3 separate regions of the Homo sapiens genome follow, and regions 1 and 2 are each linked to region 3. The links come from fine-mapping of genetic effects on gene expression. A gene starts in region 3. Each other region holds a variant in brackets. All regions are shown on one strand. Distances are from middle to middle.

Region 1 (5,933 bases), 28 kb after region 3:
TTAATAGCAAAAAAAACTTTTTGGTATAATTCTGAAATATTTCATGGGACATATTTATACTAAAACGTCATGCACTGTTGATTTGAAATTCAAATGTAATTGGGCCTCCTCTATTTCGTCTGGCAAGCGTAGACAAAAGAATCCAGTCCAGGCCAGGCGCAGTGGCTCAAGCCTGTAATCCCAGCACTTTGGGAGGCCGAGGCGGGCGGATCACGAGGTCAGGAGATCGAGACCATCCTGGCTAACACGGTGAAACCCCGTCTCTACTAAAAATACAAAAAATTAGCTGGGCGTGGTGGCGGGTGCCTGTAGTCCCAGCTACTCGGGAGGCTGAGGCAGGAGAATGGCGTGAACCTGGGAGGCGGAGCTTGCAGTGAGCCGAGATCGCGCCACAGCACTCCAGCCTGGGCGACAGAGCCAGACTCTGTCTCAAAAAAAAAAAAAAGAATCCAGTCCATAGTCCCCTGAGCCATGTGCCCTGGGGTGCAGCTGGGTCCTTCAGGAGAAAAATGCTCTATTTCTGGCACTGGGACCGAGCCTGATGTGGGTTTTTTGTTGGTTTTTGTTGTTGTTATTGTTTTTGAGACAAGGTCTCGCTCCACCACACCCGGCTAATTTTTGTATTTTTAGTAGAGACGGGGTTTCACTACGTTGGCCAGGCTGGTCTTGAACTCCTGACCTCAAGTGAGCCGCCTGCCTCGGCCTCCCAAAGTGCTGGGATTACAGGTGGGAGCCACCGCCCTGGCCCTGGGCCTGATGTTGATGACCTCCTACTATGTGCACCTGCAGCTCTCCTGCATAGGCCTCAGCCGTCCTGCATGAGGACACTGGGAGGCAGGTGCTCCCTATCAACCCCGTGTTACAGTTGAACAAACTGAGCCCCAGAAAAGAAAACGTATTTGCCCAGGTCACACGGTGAAGAAGTGAGGGATTCGAAGCCCAGGTCCATCTGAAGCCAGAGTCACCCAGAGGAGAAAGAGTTGGAATTGAGAACTCAAGGAATGCTTGGAAGTGATCGGGCTCGAGCCCACCTAGGAAGAAACAGAGGCTGGAGACATGAGACTGTGTTGCTATTTCCTCTCATCAACCCTTGGGCCCTATTGAGGCCCTACCACAAGCCTGGCCCTGCAGCCCAGTGACTAGGAGAAATTAGACACAAGATAATAATAACAGCAATGATCTTTTTTTTTTTTCTGAGACGGAGTCTTGCTCTTTCGCCCAGGCTGGACTGCAGTGGCGCGATCTCGGCTCAATGCAAGCTCCACCTCCCAGGTTCACGCCATTCTCCTGCCTCAGCCTCCCGAGTAGCTAGGACTACAGGCGCCTGCCACCACGCCTGGCTAATTTTTCATATTTTTAGTAGAGATGGGGTTTCACCGTGTTAGCCAAGATGGTCTCAATCTCCTGACCTCGTGATCCGCCTGCCTCGGCCTCCCAAAGTGTTGGGGTTACAGGCATGAGCCACCGCGCCTGGCCAACAGCAATGATCTTTGAGCACCTATATTGCCAGTCTCCACGGTAAGAGCTTTCTTCATTTTTTGTTTTGTTTTGTTTCAAGACAGAGTCTTGCTCTGTCACCCAGGCTGGAGTGCAGTGGTGTGATCGCGGCTCACTGCAGCCTTCACTTCCCGGGTTCAAGCCATTCTCCTGCCTCAGCCTCCCAAGTAGCTGGGATTACAGGCACGCATCACTACTTCTGGCTAATTTTTGTATTTTTAGTAGGGACAGGGTTTTTCACCATGTTGGCCAGGTTGGTCTCAAACTCCTGGCCTCATATGATCTGCCCACCTCGGCCTCCCAAAGTGCTGGGATTACAGGCGTGAGCCACTGCGCCTTTCTTTGTATTTGTTCAAGTAATATACTGAAATATGTACTGTGCCTCCCACTTTATGGAGGAGGAAACTGAGGCCAGCAAATGAGGCTGTCATGGGAGGTGGAGACAGGATTTGAACCTGCCTCAGTGCAGGAGGCTCAAGAGCCTCTGTCTTCTCTCAGGGCACTGTGTGGGAGGGTGAGAAGGAGGGAGGCCCACAGAGGCATGACCTCTGATTGCCACTGTCACCTGGGCCCTGCTCTCTGAAGTCTCTGCCAAGCGGGGAGGTGGCCGGGGGAGGGCCCTGCTCTGTGCAGCCTCCCCTCCCCCGGCCCGCAGAGTTGAGCACAGAGGGACAGAGGCACGGAACCCCCAGAAATGTCCCTCCTCAGAAACAGGCTCCAGGCCCTGCCTGCCCTGTGCCTCTGCGTGCTGGTCCTGGCCTGCATTGGGGGTGAGAAGAAGTGGGTGGAGGGATGTGGGGCCCACACCTGGTGGGTGTGAGTGTGGCTGTGTGTCCTGTGGCTCTGTAGCCACGTGAGACATGAGTACGGAGTGTGTGCGTTTCATGGCGTGCGTATGCATGTGCGTGTCGGGGAGTGTGTGTGTCGGTGGCTGAGAGTGAAGTGTGAATGTCACATTGGTACAAACTGGGATCATCTGTGTGTGTGCACGTGCGTGCGTGGAAGTGGGAGTATGCAGTCGTGGTAAAAAAGTGCATGTCTGTGTGCATATGTGTATTTGTGTGCACCTGTCTCTCTGTGGGGTATGTGTGTGCAAAATATTTGAGTGTGTGGACATGTGTGAGGGGGTGAGTGTGTGCTGGTGTGTACGTCTGTGTTTTGCATATGCATTTTTTTTTTTTTTTTTGAGACGGAGTCTCACTCTGTCACCCAGGCTGGAGTGCAGTGGTAGCAGTGGTGCGATCTTGGCTCACTGCATCATCCGCCTACCCGTTTCAAGGGATTCTCCTGCCTCAGTCTTCAGAGTATTTGGGACTACAGACACACGCCACCATGCCTGGCTAATTTTTTTTTTTTGAGACGGAGTCTCGCTCTGTTACCCAGGCTGGAGTGCAGTGGCGTGATCTTGGCTCACTGCAACGTCCGCCTCCCGGGTTCACGCCATTCTCCTGCCTCAGCCTCCCGAGTAGCTGGGACTACAGGAGCCCACCACCACGCCTGGCTAATTTTTTGTATTTTTACTAGAGACGGGGTTTCGCCGTGTTAGCCAGGATGGTCTCCATATCCTGACCTCGTGATCCGCCTGCCTCGGCCTTCCAAAGTGCTAGGATTATAGGCGTGAGCCACTGCGCCTGGCCAATGCCTGGCTAATTTTTTTATATTTTTGGTAGAGACAGGGTTTTGCCATGTTGCCCAGGCTGGTCTTGAAATCCTGACCTCAGGTGATCCGCCCGCCTTGGCCTCCCAAAGTGCTGGGATTACAGGCATGAGCCACCACGCCCGGCCATGTACTTTATGTTAAAATGGGATCATATTCTAGATCAGCATTATCCAGTAGAAATTTAAATTTTTAATACAGGGCCAGGCACGGTGGCTCATGCCTGTAATCCCAGCACTTTCGGAGGCCGAGGCGGGTGGATCGCAAGGTCAGGAGATTTGAGATCATCCTGGCTAACAGATGGGTAAAAACCCATCTCTACTAAAAATACAAAAAATTAGCCATGCATGGTGGCATGCGCCTGTAGTCCCAGCTACTCGGGAGGCTGAGGCCGGAGAATCACTTGAACCCGGGAGGCAGAGGTTGCAGTGAGCCGAGATCGCGCCACTGCATTCCAACCTGGGTGACAGAGCGAGACTCCGTCTGAAAAAAAAAAAAAATTTAACACGTATGTAGACAATGTGCAAGGCACCATTCCATGTGCATCGTATGTAGTAACTCTTAATTCTCACGATAACCCTGAGGTAGATATTATTACCCCGTTCTACAAAAGGAGAAACAGTCCTGGGGAGACAGGATAAGTCACCGGCCAAGGCACACAGCTAGCTACATGTGGCCCCCGCGTGACGGCTGGTCTCTGTAGGCGAGGCTTTGTCCAGATGC[G/A]TGGGTAGAAGGTCTGGCCCGGAAAGAGGAACTGACAGCAAGGCTAAGCCAATGTCTGCCCCTGGGGGCAGAAAGTCACCTCCTGCTCTCCCTCCACTGTCCACAGAGGTAGCTCAGACAGGGTGGGGGTCACAGGAGAACGAAGGGAGAAGGGGGTAGTTCCTGGGCAGCAAAATCAGGTGGTGAAGGGAGGCATCAGAGGATGGCAATTAGAGAGGCCATTAGAGGGGAACCACAGGCAGACAGGGTGACAGGAGGGACTACTGACACAAGGTGAAGAGATGGCCCAGCCGGACGGGGTGGCTCACATCTGTAATCCCAGCATTTTGGGAGCCCGAGGTGGGTGGATCACTTGAGGTCAGGAGTTCGAGGCCCCAACATGGCAAAACCCCATCTCTTCTAAAAATACAAAAATTAGCCGGGCATGATGGCAGATGCCTGTAATCCCTGCTACTCGGGAGGCTGAGGCAGGAAAATTGCCTGAATCCAGGAGGTGGAGGTTGCAATGAGACGAGATCATGACACTGCACTCCACCCTGGGCAACAGAGCAAGAGACTGACTCTGTCTCATAAAAAAAAAGAAAAAAGAAAAAAAAAAAGAGATGGCTGATGGTTAAAGAGGGGTTAGCGGTCAGGGGACACATAAGGGTAAAGGCAGGAGGCAAGAGGACTGGCAGGGGGCTGCCCCTGGGCCACCGGGAGCGACACAGGATGAGCATGGAGGGAAAGGGAGAAGGGGATTCTAGGGTCCCAGCCTACCCAAGTTGCCCTCTGGTTCCACCTAGCATGCCAGCCAGAGGCCCAGGAAGGAACCCTGAGCCCCCCACCAAAGCTAAAGATGAGTCGCTGGAGCCTGGTGAGGGGCAGGATGAAGGAGCTGCTGGAGACAGTGGTGAACAGGACCAGAGACGGGTGGCAATGGTTCTGGTGAGGGTGTGCTGGGCTGGGTGGTGGGAGGGGACTCCTGGGTCTGAGGGAGGAGGGGCTGGGGCCTGGACCCCTGAGTCTCAGGGAGGAGGAAAGGGTGGGAGTGGGGCTGTGACCCCTAGGTCTGGGAGGAGTGGAGGGTTAGAGCTGAGAGCAGGAACTCCTAGGTCACAGAGAGGAGCGGATAAATGGGGCAGAGAACACCTGGGGAGAGCTGGGGCCTCCACTGTGATGTCCTCTCTCCTGTAGGAGCCCGAGCACCTTCCGGGGCTTCATGCAGACCTACTATGACGACCACCTGAGGGACCTGGGTCCGCTCACCAAGGCCTGGTTCCTCGAATCCAAAGACAGCCTCTTGAAGAAGACCCACAGCCTGTGCCCCAGGCTTGTCTGTGGGGACAAGGACCAGGGTTAAAATGTTCATAAAAGCCAGGTGTGGTTGTGGCGGGTGCCTGTAGTCCCAGCTACTCAGGAGGCTGAGGTAGGATGATGGCTTGAGCCCAGGAGTTCGAGACCAGCCTGGGCAACACAGCGAGATCTCTTGGGGGTAAAACAAAAAGAAAAAAAAAAGTTCATACTTCTCCAATAAATAAAGTCTCACCTGTGTCCCTGTCTGGATCCTTCCCCAGTGTGGCCAGAAAAAAACCCACCCCACTGCCTCCCAGGAATCAATGAGTAGAAGAGGTGACACCTGATGGGGAAGGAAGAGTAGGGAGGTCGGGAAGGGTATCAAGGAATAACACCCTATTGTGGGCTTGCGGAGAATGGGGGACTTCAAGGCGTGTCAGTTTCAGGAGGGTGAGGGCAGGAGCGTGGGTGGAGTCAGCAGGTCCCCATGATGGCCCTCACTGAGAGCTTCGCCCTTGTCTCCTACAAGCTCTGACTCCATTCCCAGTGGGCACCCAGCACCTCCAACCCCTCCACAGCCCCCAACCCAGCCTCTGTCGGAGGCGAATTCTCAGAGTGAGGGTTCCCTGTCACTTGAGAGAAGGTTCCCTGTGACGTGACCTTGGGGGACGTCATTGCCCTTTCTGTCCCCACCCACCCCCTCCGCAGTTCTGTTGGCCAGGACTTTGGCCTAGACAAAGGATGGGGGTTGTGGCTGTGGAGCGGAAGTGGGTCTCAACCA
Region 2 (7,824 bases), 20 kb after region 3:
CTACTTGCCCTGTGCTAAGGATGTTTTAACTCTATGGTCTCAAAAGAATCTTCCTAAGAACCTTGCAAACTGGGACTTAATAATCCCATAAGGGCATTGAGGCCCAGAGAGGTGAGGCTACTTGTATAAGGTCACACAGCCAGGAAGTGGAGAACTGGAACTAGATTGAACCCTCAGCCAGGCAATGTCACTATGCTACACTTTTCCTAGTGTGGTCTACCCGAGATGAGGGGCTGAGGTTTTTTGTTTTGTTTTGTTTTGTTTTGAAACAGAGTTTCGCTCCTCTTGCCCAGGCTGGAGTACAATGGCACCATCTCAGTTCACTGCAACCTCCGCCTCCCAGGTTCAAGGGAGTCTCCTGCCTCAGCCTCCCAAGTAGCTGGGATTGCAGGTGCGTGCCACCATGCCTGGTTAATTTTTGTATTTTTAGTAGAGACGAGGTTTCTCCATGTTGATCAGGCTGGTCTTGAACTCCTGACTTCACATGATCTGCCTGCCATGGCCTCCCAAAGTGCAGGGATTACAGGCATGAGCCACCTCGCCTGGCCTTTTTTTTTTTTTCTTGAGACAGAGTCTCACTCTGTACCCCAGGCTGGAGTGCAGGGGCATGATCTCGGCTCACTGCAACCTCCGCCTCCTGGGTTCAACAGATTCTCCTGCCTTAGCCTCCCTAGTATCTGGGATTACAGGTGTGTGCCACCACACCCAGCTAATTTTTGTATTTTTAGTAGAGACAGCATTTTATCGTGCTGGCCAGTCTGGTCTCCAACTCCTGGATTCAAGCAGTCCTCCTGCCTTGGCCTCCCAAAGTGGTGGGATTACAGGCGTGAGCCACTGTGCCCAGCTCTTACGTAAAATTAAACCACATGCACATGCAAAACAACCCTATGTAAAAAAAAAATTTTTTTTGAGATGGAGTCTGGCTCTGTCACCCAGGCTGAAGTGCAATGATGCGATCTCCACTCACTGCAACCTCTGCCTCCCAAATTCAAGTGATTTTTTTGCCTTAGCCTCCTAAGTAGCTGGGATTACAGGCATGTGCCACCACACCTGGCTACTTTTGTTGTATTTTTAGTAGAGACAGAGTTTCACCATGTTGGCCAGGCTAGTCTCGAACTCCTGACATCAAGTGATCCGCCCGCCTTGGCATCCCAAAGTGTTGGGACTACAGGTGTGAGCCACTGCGCCCAGCTTAAGATTGCATAAGAACAATATTTGAAAGCCATATATCTAATAAGGGGTTAATATTCAAAATATATAAGGGACTCCTACAATGCGAGTGGGAACACCAAACACTGCAGCCACTGTGGAAAACAGTATGGGGTTTCCTCAAAACATTAAAAATAGAACTACCAAATGATCCTGCAATCTCATTTCTGGGTATTTATTCAAAAGAATTGAAATCAGGACCTTGAAGAGATACCTGCCCTCCCATGTTCACTGCAGGTCTGCTTAATACCCAAGATATGGAAACAACCTAAATGTTTATCAACAGATGAATGGGTCAAGGAAATGTGGTCTATACGTGCAATGGAATGTAAAGCATCCTTAAAAAGGAAACCCTGAGGCCGGGCTCTGTGGCTCACACATGTTATCCCAGCACTTTCGGAGGTCGAGGCAGGAGGATCACTTGAGGCCAGGAGTTGGAGACCATCCTGGCCAACATGGTGAAACCCCGTATCTACTAAAAATACAAAAAAAATCAGCCAGGCATGGTGGCGGGTGCCTGTAAACCCAGCTACTCAAGAGGCTGAGGCAGGAGAATCACTGGAACCCAGGAGGCGGAGGCTGCACTGAGCAGAGATCGTGCCGTTGCACTCCAGCCTGGGCGACAAGAACAAAACTCCATCTCAAAAAATAAAAAAAGGAACTCCTGAAGCCAGGCTCGGTGGCTCCCACCTGTAATCCCAGCACTTTGGGATGCCAAGGCAGGAGGATCACTCGAGGCCAGGAGTTGGAGACTATCCTGTCCAACATGGTGAAACCCTATCTCTACTAAAAATGCAAACATTAGCCAGGCATGGTGGCGTGTGCCTGTAATCCCAGCTACTTGGGAGGCTGAGGCGTGAGAATAGCTTGAACCAGGAGGTAGAGACTGCAGTGAGCTGAGATCATGCCACTGCACTCCAGCCTGGGCGTCAGAGCAAGACTCCATCTCAAAACATAAAAGGAAATCCTGGGCCGAGCGCAGTGACTCACGCCTGTAATCCCAGCACTTTGGGAGGCCGAGGCAGGTGGATCACAAGGTCAGGAGATCGAGACCATCCTGGCTAACATGGTGAAACACTGTCTCTACTAAAAATACAAAAAATTAGCTGGGCATGGTGGCGGGCGCCTATAGTCCCAGCTATTCGGGAGGCTGAGGCAGGAGAATGGCGTGAACCCGGGAGGCAGAGCTTGCAGTGAGCCAATATTGCGCCATGCATTCCAGCCTGGATGACAGAGTGAGACTGTGTCTCAGGAGAAAAAAAAAAAAAAAAAAGGAAATCCTGAACCTGGGCATAGTGTCTTATGCCTGTAATCCCAGCACTTTGGAAGGCTGAGATGGGAGGATCAGTTGAGGTCAGGAGTTCAAGACCAGCCTGGGTAACATGGTGAGACACCGTCTCTACCAAAAAAAGAAGAAAGAAAGAGAATAAATAAATTATAAATATTACTCTCTGGGGTTAATGCATTCCCTTCTCCCCCAAAATCAACCCTCCAAACTCCTATACTCTCCTTTCTTCTCACTCAGCAGCCTGTTAGAACTCAAGTCAGATTTTTTGTTTTTTTGTTTTTTGAGGCGGAGTCTCACTCTGTTGCCCAGGCTGGAGTACAGTGGCACCATCTCAGTCCACTGCAACCTCTGCCTCCCAGGTTCAAGCGATTCTCCTGCTCAGCCTCCCAATTAGCTGGGACTACAGGTGTGTGTGTGTCACCACACCCAGCTAATTTTTGTATTTGTAGTAGAGACGGGGTTTCACCATGTTGCCCAGGCTGGTCTCAAACTGCCCAGCTCTAGCGATCTACCCTCCTCGGCCTCCCAAAGTGCTGGGGTTACAGGCATGAGCCACCGTGCCCAGCCTCAAGTCAGATTATGCTCTTCCTCTGCTCAGAACTCTCCTGATTCTCTCAGAGCAAACCCAGAAGAACTTACCAAAGGCCTACAAACAGGACACTACCCGGTTCACGATCGCCTCATCCCTCTCTCTCCATCACTCACAAGCAACTCCTTGCTATTCCTCCAATGTACTGGGCAGGTTCCCACCTCAGGGCCCTTGCAGTTACTGTTCCTCTTGCCTGGAATGTTCTTCCCCAGGGGTCCAGATATCTGCCTGGCTCCCTCCTCACTTCCTCCAGTTCTCTTCCAAAATCATCCCCTGCCAGACATAGTGGCACACTCCTGTAATCCTAACCTTTGAGAGGCCAAGATGGGAGGATTGCTTCAGCTCAGAGGTTCAAGACCAGCCTGGGCAACATAGCAAGACCCCATCCCTCCTAAAAAAAATTAGCTGGGCATGGTGGTGCACACTTGTGGTTCCAGCCACTTGGGAGGCTGAGGTAGGAGGATGGCTTTGAATCAGGGAGGTTGAGGCTGCAGTGAGCCATGTTCCAAATTAGATAGTGGTGATTGTGCAACCTTGCCAATATAGGAAAAACCATTGAACTGTACACTTTAAAAGGGTAAATTTAGCAGGACGCGGTGGCTCACGCCTGTAATCCCAGCACTTTGGGAGTCCGAGGCGGGCAGATCACTTGAGCTCAAGAGTTCGAAACCAACCTGACCAACATGGTGAAACTCCATCTTTACGAAAAATTAAAAAATTAGCCAGGCGTGGTGGCAAGTGCCTGTAGTCTCAGCTACTTGGGACGCTGAGGCGGGAGAATTTCTTGAACCTGCGGGGCAGAGGCTACAGTGAGCTGAGATTGCCCCACTGCACTCCAGCCTGGGCAACAGAGTGAGACTCCATCTCAAAAAAAAAAAAAAAAAAAAAGAAAAAGAAAAAAGGGTAAATTTTATGGAATGTGAATTATAACTCAATTTTTCAACATGCATTAGGAGGGACATTTCAAACCCTTTTTTACCCCAGCCTTCCCTGCAATCACCCAGAGTATCCAGCCAGGAGGGGAGTGGCTAGAGACACCAGAAGATTAGCAGGGAGGAGGGTGCAGGGTTTCGGGGGATGAGGGGATGGGATTCAGACCAGGGTAAGGATCCAGGGGTAGAGAGAAAGATTTGAGAGTGGTTTTGGGGCTTGGTGACTTAGAGAACAGAGTTGCAGGCTCTGTTTTTGGGCCCGCCCTGCCCC[C/G]TTCCGACCTCTTAGTTCCTATCCTCCAGCAGCTGTTTGTGTGCTGCCTCTGAAGTCCACCCTGAATGACCTTCAGCCTGTTCCCGTCCCTGATATGGGCAAACATTGCAAGCAGCAAACAGCAAACACATAGCCCTCCCTGCGTGCTGACCTTGGAGCTGCGGCAGAGGTCAGAGACCTCTCAGGGCCCATACCACTTCCAACATCCCCTTGATCTCTTGGATTTTGGTGGAGAGGGGCAGAGGTTGTCCTGGCCTGGTTAGGTAGTGTGAGAGGGTCCCGGTTCAAAACCACCACTTGCTGGTTGAGGAGTCGTCAGTAAGTGGCTGCGCCCCCACCCTGAGGCTTGTTTCTCCATCTGTACAATGGAAATGATGAAGATGCCCACCTGATAGGGTTTTTGTGGCAAATAAGTAAGTAGTTTTTTTGTTTTTCTTTTTCTTTTTTTTTTTTTTTTTTTGAGATGGAGTCTCACTCTGTCACCAGGCTGGAGCGCAGTGGCGTGATCTCGGCTCACTGCCAACTCCACCTCCCGGGTTCAAGCGATTCTCCTGCCTCAGCCTCTGAGTAGCTAGGACTACAGGCGCCCGCCACCACACCCAGCTAATTTTTGCATTTTTAGTAGAGATGGGGTTTCACCATGTTGGCCAGGATGGTCTCAATCTCTTGACCTTGTGATCCACCTGCCTCGGCCTCCCAAAGTGCTGGGATTACAGGCATGAGCCACCACGCCCAGCTCCCCCACCTTTTTTTTTTTTTGAGATGGAAAGCTCTGTCACCCAGGCTAGAGTGCATTGAGCCATCTTGGCTCTCTGCAACTTCTGCCTCCCGGGTTCAAGCAATTCTCCTGCCTCAGGCTCCCAAGTAGCTGGGATTACAGGCGCCCACAACCATGCCTGGCTAATTTTTGTATTTTTAGTGGAGACAGAGTTTCACTATATTGGCCAGGCTGATCTCGAACTCCTGACCTCAAGTGATCTGCCTGTGTCAGCCTCCCAAAGTGCTGTGATTACAGGCATGAGCCACCATGCCCCACCGCAATTAAGTAAAGTAATCATCTAAAAGCCCTGCCATGGTTCCTGCCACACAGTGTGTGCTGGGGAAGCGCGCACGAATTAAACAGTAGCTGGCGTTGACGGGGCACCTATGCGGCATTTTCTGTGCACGATCTTTACTCTCCCTGGCAACCCTATGAGGTAGATAGTCCATGACTCCCATTCATGGATGAAGAAACAGGCCCACACAGGTAAAGCAACTTGTACCAGGTCATACCGCTAGAAAGATGTAGAGTCAGCCACGCGCGGTGGCTCATGCCTATAATCCCAGCACTTTCGGAGGCTGAGGCGGGATGATCACTTGAGGTCAGGGGTTCGTAACCAGCCTGGCCAACATGGTGAAACCCCGTCTCTACTAAAAATACAAAAATTAGCTGGGCGTGGTGGCGGACGCCTGTAATCCCAGCTACTCAGGAGGCTGAGGCAGAAGAATTGCTTGAACCCGGGAGACAGAGGTTGCAGTGAGCTGAGATCACGTCACTGCACTCCAGCCTGGGTGACTGAGCAAGACTCCATCTCAAAAAGAAAAAAAAACAGGCCAGGAGCAGTGGCTTACACCTGTAATCCCAGCACTTTGGGAGGCCAAGGCGTGTGGATTGCCTGAGGTCAGGAGTTCAAGACCAGCCTGGCCAACGTGGTGAAACCCTGTCTATACTAAAAATGCAAAAATTAGCTGGGTGTGGTGGCAGGCGCCTGTAGTCCCAGCTACTCGGGAGGCTCAGGTAGGAGAATTGCTTGAACCCAGGAGATGGAGGTTGCAGTGAGCCGAGATCGCGCCACTGCACTCCAACATGGGCAATAGAGCAAGACTCCATCTCAAAAAACAAAGAAGGGAGGGAGGGAAGGAAAGAAAGGAAAAGAAGCAACAGGTAGAGTCAGGCTCTGAACCCCACACCAATCATAACACAACACACAGTAGGTTTGTTTTTGTTTTTTATTTTGGGCTTTTGTTTGTTGTGGAGACAGCGTCACCCAGGCTGTAATGCAATGGTACAATCATAGCTCACTGTAGCCCTGAACTCCTAGACTCAAACAATCCTCCCACCTCGGCCTCCTGAGTAGCTGGGACTACAGGGGCATGCCACCACGCCTAGCTAAATTTTTTTTTTTTATTTTTAGTAGAGATGAGGTCTCCCTATGTTGCCCAGATTAGTGTCTTAACTCCTGGGCTCAGGTGATCCTGCCACCAGGGATTACAGGCACGAGCCACCATGCTGGCCCTTGTTTTTTGTTGTTTTTTTTTTTTTTTTTTGAGACGGAGTCTCGCTTTGTCGCCCAGGCTGGAGTGCAGTGGCGGGATCTCGGCTCACTGCAAGCTCCGCCTCCCGGGTTCACGCCATTCTCCTGCCTCAGCCTCCCAAGTAGCTGGGACTACAGGCGCCCGCCACTATGACCGGCTAATTTTTTTGTATTTTTAGTAGAGACGGGGTTTCACCGTTTTAGCCGGGATGGTCTCGATCTCCTGACCTCGTGATCCGCCCGCCTCGGCCTCCCAAAGTGCTGGGATTACAGGCGTGAGCCACCGCGCCCGGCCTGTTTTTTTTTTTTTTTTTGAGACTGAGTCTCGCACTGTCGCCCAGGCTGGAGTGCAGTGGCGCGATCTCGGCTCACTGCAACCTCCACCTTCCAGGTTCAAGCAATTCTCCTGCCTCAGCCTCCTGAGTAGCTGAGATTACAGGTGCCCACCACGATGCCCAGCTAACTTTTTTTTTTTTTTTGGTATTTTTAGTAGAGACGGGGGTTTCACCATGTTGGTCAGGCTGGTCTCGAACTCCTGACCTCGTGATCCGCCCGCCTTGGCCTCCCAAAGTGATGGGATTACAGGCGTGAGCCACCGTGCCCAGCTTTTTTTTTTTTTTTTTAAGAGACGGGGTCTTACTATGTTGCCCAGGCTGGACTCTCAAACTCCTGGGCTCAAGGAATCCTTCTACCACAGCTTTCTGAGTAGCTGGGGCTACAAGCCCCTGCCACAGTACCTGGCTGTTTTTGTTTTTTTATAATTGTGGTAAAATATAAACAACATGGCCGGGTGTGGTGGCTCACGCCTGTAATCTCAACACTCTGGGAGGTTGAGGTGGGAGGATTACTTGAACCCAGGAGTTCAAGACCAGTCTGGGCAACTTGGCAAAACTGTGTTTCTACAAAAAATAAAAATATTAGCTGGGCAGCCAGGCGCAGTGGCTCATGCCTGCAATCCCAGCACTTTGGGAGGCTGAGGTGGATGGATCACCTGAGAGGTCAGGAGTTTGAGACCACCCTGGCCAACATGGTGAAAACCTGTCTCTTTAAAAATACAAAAAAATGAGCCAGCCATGGTGGCTCACGCCTGTAATCCCAGCACTTTGAGAGGCCAAGGCAGGTGGATCACCTGAGGTCAGGAGTTCAAGACCAACCTGGCCAACATTGTGAAACCCCGTCTCTACTAAAAATACAAAAAATTAGCTGGGCATGGTGGCAGGCGCTTATAATTCCAGCTACTA
Region 3 (7,824 bases):
CAGAGAGGGGAAGCTTGGATGGAAGCCCAGGAGCCGCCGGCACTCTCTTCTCCTCCCACCCCCTCAGTTCTCAGAGACGGGGAGGAGGGTTCCCACCAACGGGGGACAGGCTGAGACTTGAGCTTGTATCTCCTGGGCCAGCTGCAACATCTGCTTGTCCCTCTGCCCATCTTGGCTCCTGCACACCCTGAACTTGGTGCTTTCCCTGGCACTGCTCTGATCACCCACGTGGAGGCAGCACCCCTCCCCTGGAGATGACTCACCAGGGCTGAGTGAGGAGGGGAAGGGTCAGTGTGCTCACAGGCAGGGGGCCTGGTCTGCTGGGCCTGCTGCTGATTCACCGTATGTCCAGGAGCTGGAGCAGCACCCTCTCAGAGCCTCAGTTTCCCCAGATGTCAATGAGAGAATCAGCATCAGCCACATCTCCCACCTGAAGAATCGAACCTTGAGTTCTCACCTTTAAGAATTTTTTTTTTTTTTTGAGACAGTGCCTTGCTCAGTCGACCACGCTGGAGTGCAGTAGCACGATCATCAATCACTGCAGCCTCCAACTCAAGCAACCCTCCTGCCTCAACCTCCTGAGTAGCTGGGGCCACAGGCACCCACCACCATGCCTGGCTAATTCTTTCTTTTTTGAGATGGAGTCTCACTCTGTCGCCCAGGCTGGAGTGCAGTGGCACCATCTTGGCTCACCGCAACCTCTGCCCCCCGGGTTCAAGCAATTCTCCTGCCTCAGCCTCCTGAGTAGCTAGAATTACAGGCGCACACCACCACACCAGGCTAATTTTTGTATTTTTAGTAGAAACGAGGTTTCACCACGGTGGTCAGGTTGGTCTCAAACTCCTGACATCAGGTGATCCACCCGCCTCGGCCTCCCAAAGCACTGGGATTACAGGAGTGAGCCACCATGCCTGGCCATATTTTAAACTTTTTTGTAGAGATGGGGTCTTACTATGTTGCCCAGGCTGATCTCAAACTCTTGGGCTCAAGCAGATCCTCCTGCCAAAGCTTCCCAAAGTAGTTGGATTACAGGTGTGAGCCACCACGCCCCACCAACCTATGAAGATGTCTAAGCAGACAGGGTGCCCTATCTCACCACATCCCCAGTCAGATCCAGAGGTGGGACAAGGATGGGAAGGAGGTTCCAGAACAAAGGCTGGCAGGGAGTCGTATGGGACAGGAGCTGACCCAGCAACCATCCACAGAGACATCCTGGAGCCTGGGAAGGAGAAGGACAAAGAGCCCCCTTTTTTAAATTTTTTTTATGTTTTTGAGACGGAGTCTCACTCTGTCACCCAAGCTGGAGTGCAGTGGCACAATCTTGGCTCACTGCAACCTCCACCTCATGGGTTCAAACGACTCTCCTGCCTCAGCCTCCTGAGTAGCTGGGACCACAGGTGCACACCACCATGCCTGGATAATTTTTGAATTTTTGGTAGAGACGGAGTTTCACCATGTTGGCCAGGCAGGTCTCGAACTCCTGACCTCAAGTGCTCCGCCCACCTTGGCCTCCCAAAGTTCTGGGAATACAGGCGTGAGCCACTGCAACCAGCCAGTAGCCCCCATCTTTGCCCCTCGCTGAGCCCTACTGGATGTTCTTGGTTATGCGACAGTTTCCCCATCTATTAAAGAGAAACCCCTATAGCAGAGGGGAGGATGAGGTTGGAAAAGCAGGAGCATTGTTATGCTATTCTTGTGGGGTCTGGGAAGCAGACATCTGGGTGGATGTTTGGGGGGTGCTGGGCTTAGTTGGGGAAGTAGGGGGGCCCCTGGGGCTGACAGGGACTGGAAGCTCTGAGCTGGCCAGAGGGATGTTGCAATCCTGCCAGGGTCTTGTCTATGCTGTCCTTTTCACAACCATCCCCCTACTGCCAGGCTGACACGTGGTTGCGGGGGCACAAGGCCAGCCAACCTAGAGTCTGAGGCTAGGCGGAGGACACCCTCCCCACCAGCTGCCAGGGTCACTGGCGGTCAAAGGCAGCTGGTGGGGAAGGCATTGGACTCCAGCCTTGGGGGACGGATGTAGTGATGGTGGGAAGCAGGCTTGGTGCCAGGAGGGGCGTCAGAGGGTGAATAAAAGCAGATAGAGTGTTTGGGGGAGGTAGCCAGCCAAAGGGGGTGAGGCCCGGTGGAAGGGAAGAAGGGACATACACGCAGAGCTTTGCAGCTGAGGGTTTTAATTTTTTGAGATGGGGTCTCTGTCCCACCAGGCTGGAGTGCAGTGGCACAATCACAGCTCACTGCAGCCTCGAACTCCTGGGCTCAAGCAATCTTCCTACCTCAGCCTCTTGAGTAGCTGGGACTACAGGCATGCGCCACCACGCTCGGCTAATTTTTGAACTTTTTTGTAGAGATGAGGTCTCCCTATATTGCCCAGGCTGGTCTCGAACTCCCAGGCTCAAGTGATCCTCCCTCTTCAGCTTCCCAAAGTGCTGGGATTACAGGCATGAGCCACCATGCCTGGCTAATGCAGGTGAGGTTTTTGCAGTGTCATCCAGCTAAGGCGACCCGTTCCCCTCCCAAAAAAGGGAGACTGAGAACCATGAAGTTAAGAGCCCAGAGAATATCACGGTGGTCTGGGGTGCTTCAAGGGCTGGTCTGGAATAAATTGGAGGTGGCACGCAGGGTAGGAGCGCCGGGCCAACTGGGAGACCCAGCAACATAAAGGAAAAGTTGTTGGGGCTGAGGAGGCTTGCTGAGAGAGGGGAAGTGAGGGAAAGAGGTGATCTAGGGACACGGTGTGAATGAGGGGGGGATGAGATCACAGGGTTATTACTGGGAGACCCCTGAGGGAAGATGGCCACAGGGACAGGACAAGGCTGTCTTCTTAAGGGAGGAGACCACCCCTCATATTGTCTTATGCCCAATTTCTGCCTCCAAAGAAAGAAAAAGTAAAAACTAAAAGGCAGAAATGAAATCCACAAGCAGACAGCCCGCGCCACACCCTGGGCCTGGTGGTTAAAGATTGACCCCTGACCTAATCCGTTAGGTTATCTATAGATTACAGACATTGTATAGAAAAGCACTGTGAAAATCCCTATTCTGTTTTGTTCCGATCTAATTACCGGTGCATGCAGCCCCCAGTCACGCATCCCCTGCTTGTTCAATCGATCACGACCCTCTCACGTGCACCCACTTAGAGTTGTGAGCCCTTAAAAGGAACAGGGATTGCTCACTCGGGGAGCTCGGCTCTTGAGACAGGAATCTTGCCCATTCCCCGAACGAATAAACCCCTTCCTTAACTCAGCGTCTGAGGAATTTTGTCTGCGGCTCCTCCTGCTACATTCTGAGTGGGGAAAGGGACTAAGGTGGTCTGAGGACCCCACAGAGTCAGGAAGATTGAGAGGTGAGAGTGCTGAACGGGGAGGGGCTTTGGGGCTAAGGGAAGTGCCCGGGACCCCACCTGACCCCAACGCTCACGGGACAGGGGCAGAGGAGAAAAACGTGGGTGGACAGAGGGAGGCAGGCGGTCAGGGGAAGGCTCAGGAGGAGGGAGATCAACATCAACCTGCCCCGCCCCCTCCCCAGCCTGATAAAGGTCCTGCGGGCAGGACAGGACCTCCCAACCAAGCCCTCCAGCAAGGATTCAGGTTGGTGCTGAGTGCCTGGGAGGGACACCCGCCTACACTCTGCAAGAAACTCAAAAAGGGAGATGAGGGGATCGTGGGAGGGAGGTAGGGAGGGAGGAGGGTGCCACTGATCCCCTGAACCCCTGCCTCTGCCTCCAGAGTGCCCCTCCGGCCTCGCCATGAGGCTCTTCCTGTCGCTCCCGGTCCTGGTGGTGGTTCTGTCGATCGTCTTGGAAGGTAAAAGTGGGATGGGAGAATTGCGGAGTTGGAGATTTGGAAGAGTGAAGGTGGCTACAGGCCTGGGGTCCCGGCTTAGAGGACCTCTGAGAGCTCCGGGGCCCCTTCTGGGTCGTGGTTGCCTCATCGTGGTCGGGTGGGTCTCCAGGTTCTCCCAGGCTCAGTCCCGCAGGCGCCAAATCTGCGCAGGAGAGCACTAGCAACCGATGACGTATTGAGGCCCACACCTCTGGGATTGGCTGTCCTGCTTCGACAGCCTTGAAAGTGGGTAAGCTGGGTGGGGGGCTCTGGGAGAGGTCAGTGCTGAGTAAGGCAATTCCCAGCAGCTTGAGCCCCACCAGGTCACTCCAGTATTCCTCCCCATTCTTTTTTTTTTTTTTTTTTTTTCTCTTGAGACGGAGTCTCGCTCTGTCGCCGAGGCTGGAGTGCAGTGGCGCGATCTCGGCTCACTGCAAGCTCCGCCTCCCTGGTTCACGCCATTCTCCTGCCTCAGCAGGACTACAGGCGCCCGCCACCGCGCCCGGCTAATTTTTTGTATTTTCAGTAGAGACAGGGTTTCACCGTGGTCTCGATCTCCTGACTTTGTGATCCGCCTGCCTCGACCTCCCAAAGTGCTGGGATTACAGGCGTGAGCCACCGCGTCCGGCCATTCCTCCCCATTCTAACCACATGATCCCCAAGGATCTCTATCCATCCCGGTATCCCAACCTAAGGGGGTTCCAATAACAAATTTTTGGCCGGGCAGGGTGGCTCATGCCTGTAATCCCAGCACTTTGGGAGGCCGAGGCGGGCAGATCACTTGAGGTCAGGAGTTCGAAACCAGCCTGGCCAACATGGTGAAACTTCGTCTCTACTAAAAATACAAAAAAATTAGCCAGGTGTGGAGGCACGCGCCTGTAGGCCCAGCTACTCGGGAGGCTGAGGCAGGAGAATCACTTGAACCCGGGAGGCGGAGGTTGCAGTGAGCCGAGATCATACCACTGCACTCCAGCCTGGCTGACACAGCAAGACTCCGTCTCAAAACAAAACAAAACAAAAATAGCTGGGTGTGGTGGTGCACACCTGTAATCCCAGCTACTTGGGAGGCTGAGGCAGGAGAACTGCTTGAACCCGGGAGGTGGTGGTTGCAGTAGGCCGAGATCATGCCACTGCACTCCAGCTTGGGCTACAGAGCAAGACTCCATCTCCAAAAAAAAAAAAAAAAAAACAAATTTTGAACCCCTGCCCATCTTCCTGGCAGGCCCAGCCCCAGCCCAGGGGACCCCAGACGTCTCCAGTGCCTTGGATAAGCTGAAGGAGTTTGGAAACACACTGGAGGACAAGGCTCGGGAACTCATCAGCCGCATCAAACAGAGTGAACTTTCTGCCAAGATGCGGTTAGAACCCTTCCCAGGGCACGGGAGAGCTGGGGTGTGTTTTTGGGTGGAGCCCTGGCAGATGGTCCAAGATGAACAGATTGAAAAAAAAACAAGTCCTGGAGAGGCTGACAACATCCCTCTGGTCACACAGCTAGATCTCAAGGTGCTCAGACTTCAAGGACAGTTTCCCTGACTCCCATCCAGGCCATATTTTAAAAGATGGTCTTGGGCTGGGCACGGTGGCTCATGCTTGCAATCCCAGCACTTAGGGAGGCCGAGGTGGGCTGATTGCCTGAGGTCAGGAGTTCGAGACCAGTCTGACCAACATGGTGAAACCTTGTCTCTACTAAAAATACAAAAAAATTAGGCAGGCATGGTGGCGTGCACCTGTAATCCCAGCTAGTCGGGAGGCTGAGGCAGGGGAATTGCTTGAACCAGGAAGGTGGGAGTTACAGTGAGCCAACATTGTGCCAGCCTGGGTGACAGAAGGAGACTCTGTCTCAAAAAAAAAAAAAAAAAAAAAAAAAACAAGATGGTCTTGCCCAGGTATGGTGGCTCACACCTGTAATTCCAGCACTATGGGAGGCTGAGATGGGAGGATTGCTTGAGCCCAGGAGTTCGAGACCAGCCTGACCAACATGGCGAGATCCTGTCTCCATTTAAAAAAAAAAAAAAAAAGATGGTTTTGTGAGGTAATGAAAATGAAGGCCCCAAGCTTGGCCAGACCTGGGTCCCCAGGCTGGAGTAGCACCCCTTCCTGTGTGATCTTGACAGAGGGGCATTACTGTGAGCCTCAGTTTCCTCTCCTATAAACTGGTGGTTCTACAGGGAAGTAAAGGAGCAGGCCTACAGGGTGTCTGGTACATGTAGATGCTCAGTATATCATGAAACCCACCCTTGCCCCCTTTGGCAAGTTAGAGAGTCATTCGTTCTTTCAAAAATATTTACTGAGCATCTGCTAAGTGCTGGAAACTGTTTCAATGTGGGGAATAAAACAGTGAAGAACGTGCCGAGCACGGTGGCTCACACCTGTAACCCCACCACTTTGGAAGGCCGAGGTGGGTGGATCACTTGAGGTCAGGAGTGCGAGAACCCCGTCCCTAATAGAAATGCAAAAAAAATTAGCTGGGCATGGTGGCCCATGCCTGTAGTCCCAGCTCCTTGGGAGGCTGAGGCGAGAGGATTGCTTGAGCCCAGGAGATCTAGGCTGCAGTGCGCCATGTTTGTGCCACTGCATTCCAGCCTGGGTAACAGAATGAGACCCTGTCTCAACAAAAAAAGAAAAGAAAAGAGAAGAAAAGAGAAAAGAAAGACAGGGAGGGAGGGAGGAAGGAAGGGAGGGAGGGAGGGAAAATAGAGCCAGGCATAAACTTAGAAAGATCGTTTGGAGGCCAGGCACAATGGCTCACACCTGTAATCCCAGCACTTTGGGAGGCCAAGGCAAGCAGATCACCTGAGGTCAGGAGTTCGAGACCAGCCTAACATGGAGAAACCCTGTCTCTACTAAAAATACAAAATTAGCCGGGCGTGGTGGTGCATTCCTGTAGTCCTAGCTACTCGGGAGCCTGAGGCAGGAGAATCACTTGAACCCGGGAGGCGGAGGTTGCAGTGAGCCGAGATCATGCCACTGCACTCCAGCCTGGGCGACAAGGCGAGACTCCATGCCAAAAAAGAAAAAAAACTCCTGGCGCGGTGGCTCACGCCAGTAATCCCAGCACTGTGGGAGGCTGAGCAGGCGGATCACGAGGTCAGGAGTTCGAGACTAGCCTGCTCAACATAATGAAACCCTCTCTGTACTAAAAATACAAAAATTAGCTGGGTGTGGTGGCAGGCACCTGTAGTCCCAGCTACTCGGGAGGCTGAGGCAGGAGAATGGCTTGAACCTGGGAGGCAGAGGTTGCAGTGAGCCGAGACAGTGCCATTGCACTCCAGTCCAGGTGACAGAGCGAAACTCCATCTCAAAAAAAAAAGGAAGGCATTGGTAGCAAGAGATGGCAGGCCTTGAAAGCCAGGCCAGGGTGAAGTGTTTCTTTTTTTTTTTTTTTTTTTTTTCTTTTTAAATTTTTTTTTTTGAGACGGAGTCTCGCTCTGTCACCCAGGCTGGATTGCAGTGGCCTGATCTCGGCTCACTGCAAGTTCCGCCTCCCGGGTTCATGCCATTCTCCTGCCTCACCCTCCCGAGTAGCTGGGACTACAGGCACCTGCCACCACGCCAGCTAATTTTTTGTATTCTTAGTAGAATGTAGAATTTACTTAGTAGAATTTTTTGTATTCTTAGCCAGCATGGTCTCGATCTCCTGACCTGGTGATCCACCCGCCTCGGCCTCCCAAAGTGCTGGGATTACAGGCGTGAGCCACGGCGCCCGGCCTTATTTTTTCTTTTTGAGATGTACCCAGACTGGAGTACAGTGGTGCGATCTCGGCTTACTGGAACCTCCACCTCCCGGGTTCAGGCAATTCTCCTGCCTCAGCCTCATGAGTACTTGGAACTACAGGTGTGTGACACCACACATGGTATTTTTTGTATTTTTAGTGAAGATGACATTTCACCATGTTGCCCAGGTTGGTCTCGAACTCCTGACCTCAAGTGATCAGCCTACCTCGGCCTCCCAAAGTGTTGGGATTACAGGCGTGAGCCAAATGCCCAGCCAAGGGTAAAG

Evidence for each region. PIP is the estimated chance that this variant, and not a neighbour inherited with it, causes the effect.
Region 1: its variant is fine-mapped to the expression of APOC1 in lung (TOPMed, PIP above 0.99).
Region 2: its variant is fine-mapped to the expression of APOC1 in testis (GTEx, PIP above 0.99). The same link has a PIP of 0.9 or more in ovary, skeletal muscle and tibial nerve.

What each region holds. Positions count from the first base shown.
Region 1 is chr19:44,940,087-44,946,019 of GRCh38, forward strand. APOC4 (apolipoprotein C4) reads left to right here and starts at 2,151. Exons shown (of 3, transcript NM_001646.3): 1 at 2,151-2,267; 2 at 4,663-4,804; 3 at 5,054-5,410. The coding sequence starts at 2,192. The coding sequence ends at 5,219. APOC4-APOC2 (APOC4-APOC2 readthrough (NMD candidate)) reads left to right here and starts at 2,152. Exons shown (of 6, transcript NR_037932.1): 1 at 2,152-2,267; 2 at 4,663-4,804; 3 at 5,054-5,933. The variant G/A (reference allele first, on the strand shown) is at 3,878.
Region 2 is chr19:44,931,617-44,939,440 of GRCh38, forward strand. No RefSeq gene overlaps it. Among named protein-coding and RNA genes, the nearest start is that of APOC4, 6.7 kb to the right of the region's middle. The variant C/G (reference allele first, on the strand shown) is at 4,290.
Region 3 is chr19:44,911,144-44,918,967 of GRCh38, forward strand. It overlaps APOC1 (apolipoprotein C1), which reads left to right and starts at 3,465. Exons shown (of 4, transcript NM_001645.5): 1 at 3,465-3,590; 2 at 3,729-3,806; 3 at 5,047-5,182. The coding sequence starts at 3,749. RefSeq lists enhancers at 1,501-2,260, 3,019-3,778, 3,779-4,536 and a promoter at 2,478-3,604.